Linked DNA regions of Homo sapiens: regions 1, 2, 4 and 5 are each reported to be linked to region 3. Evidence: microRNA targets listed by miRTarBase, many of them from high-throughput screens and not tested one by one. Region 3 holds a microRNA gene; each other region holds the end of a gene's coding sequence.

Evidence for each region. The annotated mature microRNA hsa-miR-4447 reads GGUGGGGGCUGUUGUUU and lies in region 3 at 1,390-1,406, shown strand. An mRNA with a match to its seed (bases 2 to 7 or 8) in the 3' UTR can be bound and repressed. Matches are read on the target gene's strand: a 7mer-m8 pairs with bases 2 to 8, a 7mer-A1 pairs with bases 2 to 7 and ends in A, and an 8mer does both.
Region 1: miRTarBase lists MIDN as a target of hsa-miR-4447. Seed matches in the 3' UTR shown: 7mer-m8 at 2,722-2,728 and 7mer-m8 at 2,220-2,226.
Region 2: the mRNA of USP12 is a reported target of hsa-miR-4447. Seed matches in the 3' UTR shown: 7mer-m8 at 2,030-2,036.
Region 4: the mRNA of SLC4A2 is a reported target of hsa-miR-4447. Seed matches in the 3' UTR shown: 7mer-m8 at 824-830.
Region 5: the mRNA of HSPA14 is a reported target of hsa-miR-4447. The part of its 3' UTR that is shown has no 7-base or 8-base seed match.

What each region holds. Positions count from the first base shown.
Region 1 is chr19:1,256,705-1,260,821 of GRCh38, reverse strand. MIDN (midnolin) reads right to left here. Exons shown (of 9, transcript NM_001388306.1): 9 at 1,679-3,827. The coding sequence ends at 3,550. Among named protein-coding and RNA genes, the nearest start is that of MIDN, 10 kb to the right of the region's middle. RefSeq lists a silencer at 1-661 and enhancers at 1,102-1,261, 1,682-1,831.
Region 2 is chr13:27,065,982-27,070,098 of GRCh38, forward strand. It overlaps USP12 (ubiquitin specific peptidase 12), which reads right to left. Exons shown (of 9, transcript NM_182488.4): 9 at 175-3,403. The coding sequence ends at 3,302. Among named protein-coding and RNA genes, the nearest start is that of USP12-AS1, 57 kb to the right of the region's middle.
Region 3 is chr3:116,847,578-116,851,694 of GRCh38, reverse strand. MIR4447 (microRNA 4447) reads left to right here and starts at 1,328; the gene lies at 1,328-1,418. RefSeq lists enhancers at 1,636-2,271, 2,272-2,906.
Region 4 is chr7:151,075,664-151,079,777 of GRCh38, forward strand. It overlaps SLC4A2 (solute carrier family 4 member 2), which reads left to right. Exons shown (of 23, transcript NM_003040.4): 21 at 1-112; 22 at 350-523; 23 at 624-860. The coding sequence ends at 704. It overlaps FASTK (Fas activated serine/threonine kinase), which reads right to left. Exons shown (of 10, transcript NM_006712.5): 2 at 3,837-4,114; 3 at 3,179-3,358; 4 at 2,899-3,038; 5 at 2,216-2,429; 6 at 1,958-2,117; 7 at 1,647-1,738; 8 at 1,438-1,573; 9 at 1,250-1,364; 10 at 961-1,169. The coding sequence ends at 1,062. Among named protein-coding and RNA genes, the nearest start is that of FASTK, 3.1 kb to the right of the region's middle. RefSeq lists enhancers at 1-560, 561-1,536, 1,537-2,512, 3,489-4,114 and a silencer at 1,339-1,418.
Region 5 is chr10:14,871,318-14,875,422 of GRCh38, reverse strand. HSPA14 (heat shock protein family A (Hsp70) member 14) reads right to left here. Exons shown (of 14, transcript NM_016299.4): 14 at 3,682-3,895. The coding sequence ends at 3,817. It also overlaps a transcript of SUV39H2-DT not described here. Among named protein-coding and RNA genes, the nearest start is that of SUV39H2-DT, 5.3 kb to the left of the region's middle.

The DNA of each region.
Region 1 (4,117 bases), not on the chromosome of region 3:
TTTTTCCTCAATGGTTGGGGGAAGGGAGCGATCCAGGGCCGACCCCGCCCCGCGAGATCCCAGCGGTCCCTGCCCTCTTTGTGCCTCAGTTTACCTCTCCGTGCTTCCCTACGCACACTTGGCCTCCGCCTGCCGCCCCTCCGCCCGCTGCACCCCTGGTTGGGCTGACCCTACCAGGCCAGGGCTCTGAGCCTGGAGCTCCATACCCCACCCCACGCCCCCAGGGCACAGCCTTGACCCCTGGGATCCCCAGTCTGGGGTGGGGGTCGGCATCCCGAGGGGCGGGTCCTGGAGTGCAGGGGACGCGCCCCCCACCCTGCAGGCTACAGACACAGCCCCTGTGATTCAGCAGGTGCTTCAGACAACATCCTCCTTCCTCCTTCCCACCCCGCCCAGCGAGGGGGCGGTGGCGCCCTGGGGCCCTCGCCTTGACCCCAGGCCTGGCGTCGGTGACCCGCACCCCCACCCTGAGCCCCGAGGGGACATCCGCACCAGGGACGGGGCGGGGGGTGGGTGCCGCCTGACTGGGCATCCGCCTTCCTGCCGTGGGCGTGCGATGATTTGGGGTTGACTGGGCGTTGGGAGGGGCAGAGGGGTCTCAGGAAGGTGCTCCCAGGCCACTCTCTGAACCTGTGCCCCTTCCCCTGGGGGCTCCCGGTACTGGGGCCCCTAGAGATGGGATAAGGGGTGGAGGTCACATCATTGAACAAACACCCCAAATCCTCTGGGCCAAGTGATGTTCCTCTTTGGGCCTCTGTTCTCCCATCTATAAAATGGGAGCCCAATTACTTCTCATAGGCAACTCTTGTTACCTGAGGAAATACAGGTTACAAAATTTAAAAAAAGACATGAAATAGTGTTATTGCCTCATCTCTGCCCAGCCCGGACATGGGTGGAGGTGGGACCCCAGAGAGGACTCAGTCCTGGTGAGGCTCACGGGGAGCTCCAGGCTAGGGACAGAGAGAGGGAAGGGTGGGGTCTGCGGGACGGGGTGGACAGGGGTGGAAGGCGCAGGCTGGGGAAGTTCCCAGACAGCAAGGGACAGCCGGACCAGGGGTGTTCCTAGACAGGGGGCAAAGGCCGGGAGGTTTGGAGCTGAAGGCCAGGTCTGGGAAGGGCTGGAATGTCAGGAGGTGTGGCCAGAGAGGCCCCCCAGGGCTGGGTCAAGCCAGGCCTGTATCACCTGCCAGCCCAAGGTACCCTGCGGAGTCCTAGGTCCTCCCAGTCGGCCTGGTGATCTCCCTGCAGCAAGCCACACAGATGTGAGACTCCAGGAAGGGGAGCAGGTGGGTGTGGCAGAGTGGGAGTCCCCGACTCCTGTGGCTGGGGAGAGCTGGTGGTCGCGTCTCCCCCATACTGGCAGGTCCTGAGGGGGCCAGGGTCCTGCCCAGGCCACGAAGCAGGCAGGCAGGCCCTCGCCCCACACCCTAAGGGACTTCCGGCCTTGGGTACCAGGAAGTGGCTGGGCTCCTCCCTCCCACCCTGGCTGCTTCCTGCCCACCCGGCAGCCGGGGAAGGAGCGTGGGAAATTCTCAGGGCCCTGACCCCTGCCCCACCCCCTCTTCGGGGCCTTGGGACCCAGGTCAGTCCCTCTGACTCCCTGAGCTGACATCCCACCCCAGGAACCCTCCCAACCAAGGCCAGATCCCCCCACTAGGCGAGCAGGCGGGAGTCAATGTGTGTTTCATTTTCTGTTTATTACTTGAAATCACGGTGCTCGTGTAGGTTTTTTTTTTTTTTTCAATTTTATGTTTTCATACATGAAACTCACGCCAGGTGCCGGGACCCCCACAGCCCGACCCCCCGAGGGCGGGTAATGCTTTCTTGGGCAGCCCTTACCGGGCAGAGGGTGGCGAGCCGGTTCCTGCCTGGAGGTTCCACCCTCAACCAGTGGAGGCACAGACGTTATTTAAAAATCGTTAAAAAACAAAACAGAACACACATTTAAATAGGTATCCAAGACAGTTCTTCAAAAAACAAACCCGCCCCTTTTACTCCTTTTTTTTCTATTTTTTTTTCTTTTTTTTTTGGAAAAATGAAAACAAAACAAAACCCAAAATCCTTGAGCTCTACCCTCTGGGACCCCTCCCTGCCCACCCTCCCACAAAAAAATTTACAGCGCTACAGTTATAACACGTGATGTTCACATCTGAAACCATTAACTTTCAACACATAAAGGGGGGGAGTTGAGGACCTGGGGTTCACCTACGAGAACAACGGTGGGGGACAGGCAGAGCCAGGACAAGACCGACAGGTGGGGTGAGGAAGGGTCCAGACATCTCCATTATCATTAAAAAATAAAAAGTGAGTGGGGAAAAAAATCCAAAAACTACCCCATTGAAATGGCCCCAGTAGGGGATTTGTCCCTCCCCTCTGGAGACAGACACCCCTAGGGCAGGGGCACTGAGAGGCAGGGGGTCCAAATTAGACCAGCAGCGGACCCCGCCACGGGGGTTAATGCTACACGGAGTTGTCGCCCCCTGCCCAGGGGATTCACAGCTCAGCACCCCCTCCCATCCTCGCTGCAGGAGGGGCCCCCAGACAGTCCCAAATCCACATCCCTCAGGTTGGGCCGGGAAGGAGGGCTCGGAGGGGGGAACTCCCCAGCACCCAGCCATTCTCTCCCCTTTTTCAAGAGTTCCCCAACCACTATTGGCTCAGTCAGAAAATTAATAGTCTATAAATACCCCAAACTCAGGCAGGAGGTCAGAAAACACGGGAGTGGGGGCGGAGGAAACAGCACAGTCCGCCGGCTGGGGCGGGGCGGAGGGCAGGCTGGGGGGGTAGTTCCCCTCTCCCTTCCCGACAGGAAAGGGTGCCATGCCCCTGCACCCAAACCCCATGGGGACCTCAGCCCCAGCCTCTGCTAAAACAGCTTTGCTCTCCTTGTTAAAGAAATGAAGGAAAATGCAAAAAAAAGATCAAGAAAAGAGGATAGGAGTGGAAGAGAAACAGTCCCCTCGTTGGCTTCTGTGACCTGTTGGCTTGCTGTAGCCCAGTGGGCGCTGCTGGCCTGGGGTGGAGACCCCGAAGTCTGCACTGGGGGGTGGGGTGGGTTCTGCGCACTGCGGCCCCTCCCCTCATCTGTAAAGTGCATAATGACATATCGACATTTTTGACTTAAAACCTGAATAGGGTCGGGGGGGAAAGGAGGCGGCGGAAGGGATGGGGCGCGTTTCTCCGTCTCCTTCACTCTCCGCCATCCAGAGAGACTGCTACATATTGGAGCTGGGGAAGGTTGGCAGGGAGGACCGACCTGGCGCAGAGGTGAAAGGAGACAGACGGAGGAGGAGGAGGAGGAGGAAGAGGAGGGCAGGAGTGAAGGGTGAAGGAGGTAGGAAGCAAAGCCCATGAAGAGTCCAGGAAACCACGGTCAGAACTTTTTAAAAAAAGAAAAAAATAATAAAAAAGAAGAAAAGAAAAAAAGACTTCTGGCTGGGGGAGTGGCCGCCTGCCCTCCAGGGCTGGGCCACGTTCTCTCCGGGGCTCTCGGAGTCCCCGCCGCCCTGGGCTGGGGTGCGAGGGGCGAGGGTGGCCGATCCGAAGATCCTAAGCCACCACGAACTCTGACTTGATGTCAGGGTTGACTTCTGGCTTCCACACGGAGTCCTCGAAGTCGAGGCCCAAGCCGGAGGCCTCGCTGGGGCTGCCGCCGCCCCCGCTGCTACTGCTGTCGCTGCGGCCGGCCTTGCGGCTGGGTGACCAGTGGTACGGACCCCGCGCGTCCCGCCGGGCCTTTCTACGGAGCCGTTTCTGCTGCAGAAGCAGCTGCAGCCGTTCCACCTTGCAGCGCGTGGCGCGGTTTTCTGTCTGCCGAAGCCGGTCCCCTGCAAAGGAGGTAGTGGCCTGTGACTCCCAAAGCCTCCACCTGCTGAACACAGAGGACCACCCCAGACCCCAGCAAATGCCCCTGAGGTCAGACACAGTCCTGCCCTCCCTGGAGGGAGGTCAGCAAAGGAAACAGTCAAGGACATCCACCATGCCGGGCACAGTGGTTCACGCCTGTAATCTCAGCACTTTGGGAGGCCGAGGCAGGAGAATCGCTTGAGCTCAGGAGTTCGAGACAGGCCTGGGCAACCTCAGGAGTTCGAGACAGGCCTGAGCCACAGAGCGAGAC
Region 2 (4,117 bases), not on the chromosome of region 3:
CAGGCACATGTAGAATGTTGTTTTACACACATGCAATTCTGTTCTAGGGAAAATCTCTTTGGATACAGAAGTAGGAGCTTGGGCAAAAGCAGTAACACAGTTTCCAAAGTGTCTACTTCTAATCTGTAAATACATTTTAGGCAAAAAGGAAAAAACACACTTGAAACCCACAGGCACAAATAAACCAACTTTAATAGATATTATTTTGTATTTATATAGTGCCTTCTTCAAGAACCTTAAATGCTTTACAGACATTATCTCTAATTAATCCCCACAACAACCCTGTGAGGTAGGTATTACTCCCATTTTACAAGACAGGGAGACTGAAGCACAGAGAGGTTAAGTGACTTGCCCAAGGTCACACAGTTAAATTCACTGAAGAGCCAGGACATGAGCGCTTTAGCCTCCCAGCTCCCAGCCAAATACCTCATGATAGAATCTTTAATAAAAAGTGTTTTTAAAGAAAGTATCAAGAGTAGTTATGTTATGAAAATGAGGTCTTTCTACTGCCATCAAGGAAAGAAAAAACCCTATACTGATGGTTAGAGGCCCCAAGACCCACATAATACAACATTTCCCTCTTTCCCTGTTCCCAAGCCTCCTGGTTCCTGTCTTAAATAATCTTTTAAAGGTAAAATTTCCAAGACAGAAGCCATGTGACTTAAGAAGTGGGACTTAATTTAGAATATTTACTTTTAGTTACAATAATTTATAGAAATTTTTATTCCAATATACAAAATATGGGACAGCCATCCCAACAATCATGTACATAGTTACACGGCAATCAGCCACCACTTACAACTTACACCAGCCCCGCATTTTAATCACAGTCAACCAACATACAACCTCACGATGCTTTCTTCATGGGTCACTTTTCTTACTTACTATACCTGTATTTTTCCCCCAACCCTGACCCTATACGTTTTAAAAGTACATTTAGTTTCTGATAAACTTCAAAACATTTTACTTAGATCCAGCTGCATTAAGAAGAAAAAGTAAATGTAAAACTGTCACCCCACAATCCCTCCCCTGACAAATCATACTATGAAGTACGGTGTAGATGTGAACAAGTATGTGATTACCAGGAACTCAACACATACACTAGAACTTGCTTTAATATGAAATTTAACTTGGCTTTTACGGCATGTTTTTTTTTAATGCAAAAATGTAAAAACAAACACAACATAGTATTTCAATGCTGTACCTTTATGCAAATGACTTCATCTATCTTTCTTAAACATGTTGATATAGCTAATGTTAAAACTGACACAGCTTCACTTTCCTCTTTTTCTCTGTACCGAAAGCTGCAGAAATACAGCTTTAATTCCAAGACAATTTGGTTTAAGCCTTCAAAATAAAAAGAGTGCATCCACTTCCACTGCCCTGACTTTCCCCACACTGTTGATTGTGATTCTCTGTGGCATGTTGGTAGATCAGGCTGGCTTATATATAATTTGTACAAAACACCTCTAGCCAGGGTAAGGCTTTAGGAACTATCTTAAAAAGAAACTTGTCAAAATACTTTTTGATATTTTGTACAAATACTAAATATTATAATTTTCTCCCAGAACATCTGTTTAAGCAGCCCAATTAAGTGACTCTGTTAAAGGTCTGCTTATGGAAAAAATAGGTGAAGTCATTTCCTGAGCCAAAAGATACAGATAATAAATGTTAATAATAGCAGCAGACTAAAAAATTCCTTTTTGTTGTTTTCCATAGTCAACAGTTTTAGCAAAAGGACTTTAGAAAATGACAATTTTTTTTAAATTTACTGCCTGAAAAGAGTTTAATAAAGAACATCCAAGGCCTGATTGCTATTATTCTGAATATAATTTTCAATAATTTTCTGCAAGTTACATTTGGCTACTGTCAGACAACTTACTGATGCATGGAAAAACGTCCAAAAAAACTGCAATCGTTTACATATATTTTATGTTACATATATTACTTCTTAAAACCCCCAACAGAATGAAGTCTTAGCAAACACAGATTTTAATTTCTGAACACCCTTCCAGTAAGATTTGTAAAGGTGGGGGGAAGGGAAGGAAGGACTTGTCTTTTGTATTCCCGGTCTACTTGATTAAAATTTAATCTTTGAAGGGTTTGTTTAGCTCACTATCCAGGCTGCTAGGGTTATGATGAACATTATGACTTCTTTCCAGGGTAAAAAATGGCATCTGAAAATAACATAAATGCTATGACATGATTTTCCCAAGCATGATCTCAACTTGAAACATTAGAATACTTAAGAATTCTAAAGATTGGTATACCACCACTGCACCAGAATTTTTAATTATTCCAACAACTACAGGAATTTTTAAAATAGTTTTTTAATTTTATGAAATTAAAGCTGAAGAAAATAACTGATTTAGAAACCATAATAAAAGGACAAATATTTAGCCAGAGATATCAGTTCCTCCTGAAAAAGGATATTTATCTCCTCTCACTGCAGTTTTTCTCAAGGTATCTTAACTGATTTCAGATAGAAATTAAAATTCACCTTAAAAATAGAAACAAACAAAAGGACAACTTAAACTGACATTAACTAATAAAAATATGTTCAAATTTACTGACAGAATCATGGGCACTTCATATAATACTTAGACTCTACCAGTTTTAAGTAAAATAAATAAGGAAAAAATTATAATTACAAAGCCAGTCTTTCCCCTTGGGGAAACAAAAAGCCACTTTTGACCAATTGCTCCCTACATATACATATACTGTATATTATTATAAGCTTCTTCAGAGAAGCAAAACATCTTTGTCTTCCCGACACTGGATTATCTAGCATGTTAGTTTTTACATCAGGAAGGCAACTGCAAGTGTTGGGCCCAAAAGTATTTCTGGTTTACTCTTGAAAAGACCACTGAATATGCTTCTATACATACTGAACCAGGCAAATTTATGCAGTGTGTTCAACATCATCTCCTTATCAATACGGCACAGATTCCGATTCTTTCTACTGCACCCCCAAGGAATTCAAAGCATTATTGGTGCAATTAATAAAGAGAAAATGCGTGCCAATGACTGGAAGGCTGTTTTAAAAGAGGAGCTGGTATCTCTGATTTCACCTCCTTGTTGTATGGAACTGTACAGACAGCATGATACCTGAGCAAATAAATCAACTACCATGATCGGAAGGGCTTGTCAATCCATCGTCTTTGCTTTATCGTGTGCAAAGTGTGCTACTGCCCCCTGAGCTTCCTGCATTTCTCTTTTCTTGAAAAATCAGTGCTTGATCCTTTCCAAAATAACCAGAGAAGAAATGAGGCAGAAAGTGTCTCTTCATCACGGTTCCCTCTCAGTCCCGAGACTGATAGAAAAGGATGTAACCAGACTCAGAGTTCTTTGAGATATCTGATGTCAACCCGTAGAATTCTTCAATAGCTTGTGCATCTATTTTCTGTGAGGTAAAATGTAAACATTAGTACATAAATGAGCTCTGTACAGCCAGAATGGCTTAAATTTAAAAGACTGACAATACCAAGTATTTGGTGAAAATGTGGGGAAAATGGAACTCTCACACACAGCTGGCAGGGCACACCAAAAAAATGTTTATAAATACCTATCTTCTAAAGCTGAACATACAACTACCCTTTGATCCAGCAATTCTACTTCTAGGTACAGGATGAATTATATGAAACCACTAATAACTATTTTGGACCAACAAAATGGTAACTTCTAGGCTGGGCACACTGACTCACGCCTGTAATCCCAGTACTGTGGGAGGCCAAGGCGGGCAGATCACCTGGGGTCAGAAGTTCGAGACCAGCCTGACCAACGTGGAGAAACCCCATCTCTATTAAAAATACAAAATTAGCTAGGCGTGTTGGCGCATGCCTGTAATCCCAGCTACTCGGGAGGCTGAGGCAGGAGAATCGCTTGAACCCAGGAGGTGGAGGTGGTGGTGAGCCGAGATCGCACCCTTGCACTCCAGCCTAGGTAACAAGACTGTCTCCCAAAACAACAAAAAGGCAACTTCTAGTGGTCCAACCTAACATATATCCAAGAAAAATGAGTGTATACGTCCAGCAAAAGGCTTATAAAAGATGACCAATGCATTTTAATTCACAATAGTCATTAACTGACAAAAAGTCAAATTTCTAACTTGGTATAT
Region 3 (4,117 bases):
AACAAGCTATAAAAATTCAGATTTCTGGTTTTTTTAAAAAGCTAATGTAATGAGAAAGGATAGAGGAGAAATTCCATGTTACAGTTATTCACAACCTCCCTTTTTCATTCATTTCTAACAAATTATTGAAGAAATTATAGAATGTCTGAAGTCAATTTGAAGTTAAATTATAACTTCTCTGTTGACTTGGTTAACATGGTATTTTTATTTTCTTTTTGTACTGATTTTCCTTTTGTGCCTGTCTATATTGCATACATATTTCTCTAATTACTTGTACAAAATACTTGGATGAAATTCTCTGTAGAATGAGATATAAATTAATATAAACAATATTTATGTAGGAAATAACAAGAAAAAAGTAGTAGCTACAAAAGTAGGCCCTGGTGAATATTTACGGCAGTTATTAAAAACCTCATGATTTTTTAGTTAATCTTCCTAAGAAATTTCATTTATATTATCTATGGTTATTTTGAGTTTCTCTCTCCTCTTTTTTTTCTTTTTTTTTTTTTTTTTTTGGTCTCTCTGTTTGGGTATTGTGTTAGTCTCTTCTCACACTTCTATAAAGACATACCTGAAACTGGGTAATTTATAAAGAAAAGAGGTTTAATTGGCTCATGGCTCTACAGGCTGTACAGACTTCTGCTTCTGGGGAGGCCTCAGGAAACTTACAATCATGGTGGAAGGCAAAGGGGAAGCAAGCACATCTTATGTGGCCAGCAGGAGGAAGAAGATAGTGGGGAGGTGCTACAGACGTTTTAACAAGCAGGTCTGGGGAGAACTCTATCAGAAGACACCTCTAGGGAAATAGTGCTAAGCCGTTAGAAACGGCCCCATGATCCAATCACCTCCTACTAGACCCCCTCCTCCAATACTGGAGATTACAATTTCACATGAGAATTGGGCAGGTACTCAAACTCAAACCATATCAGGGGTATAACTTTCATGTTATAAGCCTTCCTTAATATCTGCTAATCCTTTGCTATGCATTTATATTTAGGAACAAGTTATCACAATTCTACAATTCTGACTGGAGATGGCTTAGCATGGCAGGCTTCACTGTAGAGTGGTCAGCTGGAGAGAGACCTCCCTGCTATGGGCATCCACAGGTCTTTTCTTTTAAACAGTGATTTCCCTCAAAAAGGAAGCCTCAGATCTATTGCCTGGAATATATAAGGCAAATGATTGGGTTTCTCAGAGATACAACTAGGTGAATAAAGGGAAGGGGAAGACCTCATAATTCAAGATGCAGATCTCACAGTTCGGTGTGTAATATTCATTTTATTCATCTGATTTTAATATTTCATTCCCATCCTCAGCTTTTTCTGGTGTTCTAGAGCATGGTTTCTCATCATTTGCACTACTGATACTTGGGGTCAGATAATTGTTTGTGGTGGGGGCTGTTGTTTGCATTGTAGGATGTTAGAAGAATCCTTCTTGGACTTCTACCCACTAGATGCCAGAAACACCCCACCACAAGTTGGGACAACCAAAAATGTCTTCATGGCATATTGCCAAATATCCCTTGGGAAGCAAAATTGAACATGGTTGAGACCTACTGTTCTAAAGTAATCCCTGTTATTCAATCTCTCCAATGTTGAATAAGAGGCTTGTCCTCTTCTGGCATGTGTCTATTTGTGTATGAGGGAGACCAGAAGAGGAGTGCAGTTATCATACTATGCAGGAGTTGATGCAGGATTCTAACCACATACCAGCTTTCAACCAATCTTTACATCTTTATCACCATTGAATCTTTAGATGTATCTGTTGTCTATAAGTCCAGAAGCTTTCCTGAATTCTGTGGTGGAAATCAACTGGTTTCTTCGTTTCTATAATGAATAATTTTACTCTTCTTTTCTCTTTAAACTCAGTTAGGAATTGTCTGTCTGCTTCCAGCTTCCAAAATTTTCTTGATGCATCTTAACTGCAGTTATTTGGTCTCTTGTTTTTTCTGTGAACCAAAAAGTATCTGAGACAGGTCTCAATCAATTTAGAAAGTTTACTTTGCCAAGGTTAAGGACACGCCCATGACACAGCCTCAGGAGGTGCTGACATGTGCCCAAGGTGGTTGACGTACACCTTGCCTTTATACGTTTTAAGGAGACATAATACATCAAGCAATCTATGTGAGATTTACATTGGTTCAATCTGGAAGAGTGGAGACAGCTGGAAGTGGGGGTGAGGTAGAGATGGGGATTCCAAATCATAGCTGGATTCAAAGATATTCTGATTGGTAATTTGCTGAAAGAGCTATTATAAATAGAAAGGAATGGCTGGGCTAGAATAAGGGGTTGTGGAGACCAAGGTTTTATCATGCAGATGAAGCCTCTAAGTAGCAGGCTTCAGAGAGAAAAGAATGTAAATGTTTCTTATCACATTTAAAGTCTGTGTTGATGTTAATGCTGATTGGCTTTTCCTGAATTCCAAAAGGGAGGAGGATATAATGAGGCATGTCTGACCCCCTCTTCCATCATGGCCTGTATTAGTTTTTCACGTTAACTCTGGAATGCCCTTGACGAGAGGAGGGGTCCATTTAGATGATTGAGGAGACTTAGAATTTTATTTTTGGTTTATAGTTCTCTTTGTCTTTAGGCATTGAAGGATTTTTTTTTTTCTTTTAACTTCTTTACTCTAATTTTTGTAAATTTTCAGAAGGAAAAGTTATAAATGTGTGTTCTGTTTATCATGCTTCTGAGGGAATTTTGAATATTAAAAGCAAATCTTTAAAAAAGTGTTTAGCCTGTGTTTATTGCAGGCTACTTTGGATTATGTCCTCAGAATGTGGAAAGTACGTTTTATTTTTGCTAGAGCATTATTACTAGCTCAAGAACATCATGACTAGTACAAGTTCATTAGTGTGTGCACAAGCAAAGGTATAGCTTCTGAAGATGGGTCTGGCAACAACTTACATCTAAGTTTTGAGAATAACCAGCACACTGCTAAAGCCATCGTTAGTGCTCAATTTATTCGGCTTGATTGGTTAACTGATTCATTTGATCCTTACAATTACTCTGTGAAGCAGAACACACAAACATTGGAATCCATAGAAAGAGACACAGTGAGGTTGACTTGTTTAACATTACAAAGCTCATTTTCAGCACATCTAAGATTTGAAGCCTAGTTCATTTCTTTTTCAACTTTCCTATTCTTTGCAGAATTAGCACAATACAGGGAAGCTCCTACAGCAAATAGGAAACAAAGAGACCATTAGTTTTAAAAAGTCAAAGAAGGTAGTGCTATCATGGGCATGTACACCTGATACTCCAAAGGCTTATGCAGCAGTAGCCTGTAGATTCTTGGGTAATGATGAGCCATCAACTGTGTACAAGCCCTGTGAAGAGATAATAATAACAGCAACAGTGAACACTCGCTGATGGTTTTACTCTGTGCCTGGCTCTATTATAAATTCTTCATATGCTGTTTCTCACTGTATCATCACAACTCCTATAGATAAGGCTCTGAGTTGGAAGAGAGTGGCTGAAACTAGAATCTCTATCTTGAAGCAATGCATTCTTCTGAAAGTACAGCCTCACCCTTTTATGATAGAGAAAGTATTATTAAATGCTGAGGAATAGGAGAATCTCAAAGTCCCATGTTCTTGACTTCTCCTGTGGTGGTAAGTGTAGGGCTACTAATGTGAACTTGTATTTAAGGAATCAAATTCAAGCTTTTTGCTTATTAATTCAAGGTTCATTTATTTCACCTTAAATTTCTAGCTCAAGCCGAAATCTCATTTTACCTGCCAATTTGGCCACCTGGATAACCCTACTTTTTTCTCAAATAGAAATTCTGAAAATTGATTTTTTTTTTTACCTGTAGCAGTTAGCTTTTGCTGCATAACAAACCATTCCAAAACTTAGTAGCATAAAACTGAAATCATATTTTAGCTCTATATTTTGCCCGTTGGTAATTTAGCTTGGGTTTAATTGAGCAGTAATAATCAACTGGGCTCAACTGACCTCCCTCATGTAACTGAAGTCACCTGGCAAATAACTGATTGGTATAGAATGCCTTGCCTGGTGTGCTTGACTGAATAATATCCTTCTCCACCTCTGAAGATGTCAACAACCTAGTCCCTGGAACCTGTGAATATCTTATCTTATATTGCAAAAGGGATTTT
Region 4 (4,114 bases), not on the chromosome of region 3:
AATTTTCCTGTACATGGGAGTCACCTCCCTTAACGGGATCCAGTTCTATGAGCGGCTGCATCTGCTGCTCATGCCGCCCAAACACCACCCAGATGTCACTTACGTCAAGAAGGTGAGCCCCCCAGCTCCCCACCGGAAGGGGTGTGCCTCTGGCCATCCTGGTCTACTTGGGTCACTCTCCAGCTGCCCCCTCCCATCTGCCCAGTTCAGCCAGCCCCCACCTCCTCTCTGTACCAACCCAGCTCTGGCACCTAGGAATGTTCTTCCATCCCCGCCTCCGAAGAAGAGAGAGGCTCTTCCCAGCAGCAGGCTAGGGAGGAAGCTGGGCTCACCTGTCTCCGCCCCCCAGGTCCGGACCCTCCGTATGCACCTGTTCACGGCCCTGCAGCTGCTCTGCCTGGCCCTGCTCTGGGCCGTCATGTCCACAGCTGCCTCCCTGGCCTTCCCCTTCATCCTCATCCTCACAGTGCCGCTCCGCATGGTGGTGCTCACCCGTATCTTCACCGACCGAGAGATGAAATGTGTAAGCCCTCCCGTCTGCCTCCCCCGGTTCCTCTTGCCTCCCTGTGGATCTGGAAAGGCCCCCCCACTTCCCTTCTTGACCGCCACCTCCCCACACACAGCTGGATGCTAACGAGGCAGAGCCGGTGTTTGATGAGCGGGAGGGTGTGGACGAGTACAATGAGATGCCCATGCCTGTGTAGCCGCCACCGAGGGACAGCCGAGGGACCGATGGACGAGGGGACAGGCTGGTGGGATGGGGTTCCCCCTCCCATGCCCCTCCCTCCTTTTTATTTAAGTGAATAATTTAAAGTCTTCTCCTCCCCCACTGCCCCTGCAGTAAAGTGCTTTGGCCCCCACCTATCTGTGGCCTTTTGTCTTTGTATGGGGGGCGGGGCATGAATGGAAGAGGCGGGGGACTCAGCTCTGCTCCCCGTCCCAAAACTGAGATTCACAACGGGGAAGGAAAGGAACTTTAATGAGAAATCAAAACACAGGGAACCAAAGTGCAAATCATCCACCCCCCATGGGGGGGCCATCCTGAACCCCACATCAACCCCTCAGCCCCCTTCAGGCCCCCAGCGCAGGCCCAGGGCCTGGAGCTTCTGCCTCAGGTAGCTCTTGAGCTGGGGCAGGCCTCTCTGGGACTCCAGTTCCTCGAAGGGTAGCTGTGGGGAGAGGAGAGGGCGGCAGGTTACCCGCAGGCTGGGAGTGAGGATGCGCCACGGGCCAGGCCAGGGCCACTCACCGGCAGGAGCTGGTAGCCCATCAGGCCTAGGTGCCGCTCCCTCAGGGCCCTCGAGCCCAGCAGCACCCGGCCGTCCCGGCAGAAATGCCAGCGTTCCCGCAACACCAGCACCACCCTGCAGGGGGAGGGACGTGGCTCAGGGCATGGCGGGCAAGGTGGCCAGGGCTCCCCCACCCTGCCTCCTTTACCTCTGGGCAGGGTCTCGAGTAGTGGCGCTAGAGGCAGCCTGGCCCTGTGGGCAGGACCTTGGTGGGTATGGCAGGAAGGGGTCCTGGGTCCTCACGGGAAGCACAGCACCAGAGCTGCTGGCGCACAGCAGGAAGTCTGGAGGGGAGCAGGGCCGGCGGCCTTAGCCAGGGCTCCGTCTCCCCGGGCCTGCCGCCTGCCCCTTGCTCACCTGTGCAGTAGCCTGGAGGCACAGTCAGGTCCTGGCGGTATTTCTCCTCCCCCAGCAGCTGGCGCAACCCCTCAGCTACTATGTCCTTGTGACTGAGGAGAAAGGACACCAGTAGCAGGAAGGGCCCGGCACCTCATCCTAATCTGTCCCAGTCTAGTGCCACCACCCTGGGCAAAGCCCTCTGCTGCTTCAGGGCCCAGTTTTATGGTGGCCGAGAGCTCCTTAGCTTTGGCGCTTCATGGTCCCTCTGGCTTTTCCACTCTGCTGGTCCCAGGCTGGCCCCTCCCCTTGCCCCAGGCTGCCCCATCCACCTGTACTTGCAGCGGGCACGGTCGGTGATGAGAGGCTGGGGAAAGATGGGCACTTGCTGCCTTCGGGGAAGGCGGGGACCCCGGTATCCTGGGAGCTCCAGCTCCACGGCCGTGTCCAGCAGGGAGAGGTAGCGACGCACAATCAGAGCATGAGGGGTGCCTGTGGGGAGGCGGGGACTGGGGCTCTGGGCTGCAGGCCACCCTGCTCCCCTGCCTCTCCAGCCCTCAGGGGCCCAGCCAGCCATCCTGGCTGCGTACCACTGATGTAGTTGATGAAGCCAGGGGAAAAAACAAAGTGCAGGGCTCTGAAGGGCAGGCACCGCAGTTGGCACAGTGACATCAAGATGTTGACTGTAGCCAGGGGTGCCACCCCTGCTTCCCGAGCCAGGATCCTCTCAAGGCAGGGCATAAACTGCTGTTCCAGGGGCAGGTAGTTCAGTCGCCCAAAGGGCAGGACCAACTTCTGTACCACCTGTGGAGGAAGAGCAGTTCATTACCCAGTGTCAAGTATTTCTGCAGTCATCTTTTACAAGCTAAGCCTTAGAGAGGCTTAGCCCTCAGGTTTACAACACTGCTGTAAAGACAGGACAGTCCCTCCGGCCTCACAGTTCAACAGCAAAGCAGTCACGAGCTGCACGTGACTAATCACCAGACAGGCAGAGGGGACATCGCTGTGGGGTCTGGCCCTGAAGACTTCGAGAGGGATGGGTGGAGCTAGGATGCTGCTAAGAGTGCTTTGGGAAACTGCAGATTTCCAGGAATGCATGCTGCTGACAGGAGGTGGGCAAGCCACAGAAAGGGTGTAGAAAAGATGCAGGTCCCAGGGGACAGAGAGGGTGTGTCTGCTTCAGGAAAAGGATAGCCGAGCTGCACGAGGCGCTGGGCCTGACAAGGTCCCTGAGAATGACAGAGATGCACTGGAGGGTGGGTGGCAAGCCCACCTTGCTGCTGAGTTGCGTTTCCTGAACCACCAGGAAGTGGGCAATGGCTTCCAGAAGCTGGGGCTCCCGCAACCGGTGCCGGGCCAGGTGCTGGGCCAGGAGCACCATCACGTGGGGAGTCAGTTCCTCTGGCCTTGCCTCTGTGAAGAGCAGCCTGTCACGCTGGGCCTCAGCCGGACCTCCGGCTGGCTCAATTCCACCTCAGCCCAGCCAACTGAGCCCACCTTCCTCCTCCTGTCAGCCCTCCCCACCCCCATCTGATTTTAACCCCCTCCAGCACCTGCCAGGCTGCTGATCAGATGCTGCCGTGGATACCGCAGAAAACGGGGGCAGCTTAGAGCAGCTTCCAACCCTTGCCCACCTCGGAGAAGGGGCTGCAAAGGGGGAGGTGGCTTCGGAGGGAGGCGGAGCCTTCGCTCCTGTTCCAGGGCACACACCAGGGGACCATCAGATGGAAAGCCTGAGGGGGAGAGGTAAAAGGCAGCCTGGTAACAGAGCTGTGCTGCTGTTCTTATCATGGGGTTACTTGGTGAATTCTCCACCTTTCTCCTCTCCCGTTTCCTGAGCGGGAAGGTGTGCTAGAGTTTAAGTGCAAACACTAGAGACATGTAAAGTATCATGTGGCTATGAGGTATCGAAACGGTTTGTAGGGAGTACATACAAAGATGGCAAATAGGCTTTCATCTCATACCAATTGTGACAAATTATGGTGGCTTCCTAGGGCACTCTATTAGCAGGAATCTGGGGTGGCACCCTAGCGAGGCCGGAAGGAGTGCGTTCGACTCATGATGTCTGCCGCAGACATAGGACGGGAGCAGGAGCAAGCGTTCCTGGGCAAACGCCTGAGAGGCTGGGTCTCTGTCCGTGGTCCTCTACTGTTCTCCCTATTCTTCATTAACACCTAGCCCCCCAGGCGCCCACCTCAAGCCCCTCCTCACCAAGTAAGACTGCAAGGTGCAGACACACGTGGATGGTGTGAATGTCAAAGGAGGGGCAGTTTCGGATGATGAGCTGACTCAAGTCCTGCAGTGTGACCTGCTCCACAGGAGGGGGCCGTGGCCGAGACCCCAAGAGCTGGCCCAGACGACGAAGCGCCACCGAGTAGTGGTGGGCGCGCACCTTGCTGGGGTTCTGGCCCAGCCAGCGCAGCAGCTCCCCAGGGCTCTTCGCCTGTTCCAGAAGCCGCTGCAGTCCTTGCACAGGACCTGCACTGGGG
Region 5 (4,105 bases), not on the chromosome of region 3:
TCAAGGGAAAAGTAGAGAATCATGACCCTTTCCCAGTATTTTTTTCACAAAGACCACATGATTTCTGGAGTGTCTCCTCTTCTACTGAAATAAACGTTCTCTTCTGAGAGGCAAAGAATCATAGAATGAACACTAGATTAAGAATGTGAATTTAAATGAAATAATCCATGTAATGTGCTTAAAATAGTAAGCAGTCAAGAAAAATTAAGTTTACAAAATAAGCATCTGAATGTTAGTTCAAAATCCACCATTTATTCACTGTGAGACCTTGGATACTTTATTTAACTGCTGTGAATCTATTATCTGGAAAACAGAAATAACCAAGGCCATATTACTCTCTACATAGTACAACTACTCGTGGAATTGTGATGAGATCAAAATTTTAAAATGAGATAATGAATTAAAGCAAATAACAGTATTATATGGTCACTCATTATCATTTTAGATATTGTGATTTTTCCCATAGAACTTTTATGCTAGGATACTTTTAAGAATTCTTATACATATAAAAGCTTTCAGTTTGTGATGAATATTTTGTGACCTCCTGTTAAGGACTGAACGTTTTCATCTCTGAAAAATTCCAGTGTTGAAATCCTCGCCCCCAAAGTGATTATATTGGGAGGTGGGGCCTTTGGGAGGTGATTAAATCATGAAGGTGGAGGCTGCATGCATGGGATTGACACCCTTACAAGAGGGACCCTTCAGAGCTCTCTCGCCCTCTATCCTCCGTGTGAGGTTATAAGGATAGCTGGCAACCCAAAAGGGAGCCCTCATCAGAACCCGGCCCCGCTTCCAGCCTGGTCCAGCACCCGAACTGACTTCCAGCCTCCAGAACTATGATACATTTCTGATGTTTACAAGCCACCCCCCAGACTATGGTACTTTATTATAGCAGTCCAAACTAAGACACGTTCCAAGACTTTCACATCATAGGTATTTCTTCCTATTTTTATATTTGGCTCTGTTCTTCAGACAATGTCAGATGTAAATAGGCAAAACTATAATTTGACATAAGCTTTTAGTGGTAAAAGTGTTTAAGTTTAAATATGTATATATTTACTATCTGGCCTTTTATATAAAAAACTTGACCCGAGGTAGATTATTGAAACTTCCACAATAAAATGACTTCTTCAAAACTTTTCTTCCATATTTATGTAATACTTCACTTACTTGACTACTTTCCCCACATTTAAATATATACATATTTAAACTTCATGAAATATATTTACATTTCATGAGTATAAATTGCATGTATCTCATGTACATCCCAATTATCTTTGCTACGACATACATATAACAAAGATAACTAGGATGTACATGAAAAGATTATCAAGGTACTCACCAAAAATCTTTATAGTTACTATTCTGGATGGTAGAATAAAGAATGTTTTATATTTTTTTCTTTTGGAATTTGAATTTTATATTGACTATGTATCATTCTTACAAACAAAAAATTTAAAGCTATTTTCACCTTGAAAAATAAAAAAACACTAGAAAATTTTGTCAGCAAATCTTTCAAAAATTCACAAGGAAAAAACTTATCACCTGAGGGTACGAAAAAATGTGGAAGAATTTCATTAGGCAGTAGAGGACTTATTGATGACAATTTCAAATTTGATAAGTCTAGGGGAAAACAACCAAACAAACATGCAAAGCTGACCAATAAAGTCAGCAGTGCTATTCCTTTCCTTCCTTATGTTTCTAAACAAACCATAAAATATACAACAGATGTACTACTCACTGGCCATTGTCCTGTAGCATACAAACATGACATTATTTTTTCTTCCACATAATTCATTTATTTGATAAGCACTTAGGAACACCCACTATGCTCACGTACTGTTGTAGGGGCTGAGGCAAAATGGTGACTAAGACTGAGAGTATCTGCTCTCACAATGCTTAATAATCTAGTGGGGAAAGGAGCCAATAAGTAAAGCATTACATAAATATAGCAGAAAACTTTAGAAGAAGTTATTTTATTCTATAAGTTTCAATAATGTACTTTAGGTGTCAAATTTTTTATGTAGAAGGCCAGACAGTAAATATTTTAAGCTTTGTGGGCCACACAGCCTTTGTGCAACTATTCATCTCTGCCACTCTAATGTGAAAACCGCCACAGCCAGCCCATATACAATTAGAGTGTGACTGTGTTCTAATAAAATTTTATCTATGAAAACAGGGGTGAGATAGATCTGACTCACTGGCCATAGTTTGGCACCCCAGATCTATTTTAAAAGCTAACAATAACCACAAAATAAAATCCTAAAAGTTTTTCAAAGCATAATTGAAAGCATGTAGACCTAGCAGTAGAACTAGTTCAGTTGGTGTTTTCCTGTGTTCTGAAGCCACTGAATTGCTTATACCAAAATCACTTTTATTTCAAATTTTCTATGACTTTGGAAAAAGATCCTAAGAAATAACTAATAACTTAGGACAAAGAGTACACCTTTAAAGCTGCTTCTGTATTTAAAGACTCTGTGGACTTAAAATCATATCTGAATTCTCTTCATGGTTCTGTCAATAATTTGATGCAAAATAATGATGAAAAAATTTAAGTTTGGTTTCTGGATCTTTAAAAACTTTTAGAAGGGTACTACCAACTAACTCCATAGCAGCCAACATGAATAAGTTTTCACTGGAACCCACTGAGGATCTCAGGGCTCTAGTGAATATTCTCTGGTAAACAGAATGTGGCTAGCCTTCTCTTCAAACTAAAGAGATTTTTTTTTTCTTTTTTTGAGATGGAGTATCACTCTGTCACCCAGGCTGCAGTGCAGTGGCGTGATCTCGGCTCACTGCAACCTCTGCCTCCTGGGATCAAGGGATTCAGTCTCAGGAGTTGCTAAGACTACAGGCGCACACCACCACGCCCAACTAATTTTTTGTATTTTTAGTAGAGATGGGGTTTCACCACGTTGGCCAGGCTGGTCTGGAACTCCTAGCCTCAAGTGATCCTCCCATCTCTGCCTCCCAAAGTGCTGGAATTACAGGTGTAAGCCACCGTGCCCAGCCCTAAAGAGATCTTTTAATTTCAAAAGAAAAACATGTTTGTTGGAAGAAATAAACTAAACAAAACTGTAAAAAGTAAAAGCCCCTCTCCTAGTTGTTGAGTTTATCAGTTTACTTAAAAAATGGCTGTCGCTTATGCCTGTAATCCCAGCACTTTGTGGGGCTAAGGCGGGAGGACTGCTTGAGACCAGCAGTTTGGGACCATCCTGGGCAACATAGCAAGACCCGTCTCTCCAAAAAAAAAAAAAAAAAAAAAAAAATTGCCAGGTGTGATGGTGCACATCTGTAGTCCCGGCTACAAGGGAGGCTAAGGCAGGAAGACTGCTTGAGCCCAGCAGTTCGAGGCTGCTGTGAGATATGATCCCACCACTGCACTTGAGCCTCGGTGGCAGTGCAAAATCCTGTCTCTAAAAACAAAAACCAACAAAAAAAGGCATCTTACTTTCTATGTGGTCCTGAAATTTTTTTCAATTAATGTCAATGACTTTTAATTGTTCTCTTGGTTATCTAACAAGAATCAATAGAAGACTTTTACAAATTAAATGTTATAGAAAATTCTTTAACCAACTCAGTTTAATTCTAAACAGCTTCATGATAAAAAAAAAAAAAAACTTCCTTATATTTCCCAGTAATAAGAGGTTACTGTACGTCAAAAACAAAGGGTTGCAACACTTACTGATATATTGTAGTTTAATAAAACATAGTTTATACAGTTCATTGAAAAAGTATTTTAATACAAACACCACTTATACACAAAACCAAATGTTGATATTCTTGTTTTTAAAAATTCTTGATTTCTCTAAAACACTAAGATGCTATCTCAATAGAGATTGCTTCACATTTTCCAGTTTCTTGATCTGTGCATGTCACATGTAAAGATCCATCCCTAAACAGACAAAAAAATAAAGAACATTGCACAAGCTCATTTTATAAAAACATAAAGTCTGTAACAAGTTACTTGAGGGCTTTCAGTAAACAAGGGTTAATTTTAATTTTCAAAAGAAGGGTATTAATGTAAAGAATAAACACAATCTCAGTGTCTCTAAATTTAGTAAGTGTCATATGTTATATTTAGCTAGTTGTTATTAGGAACTTC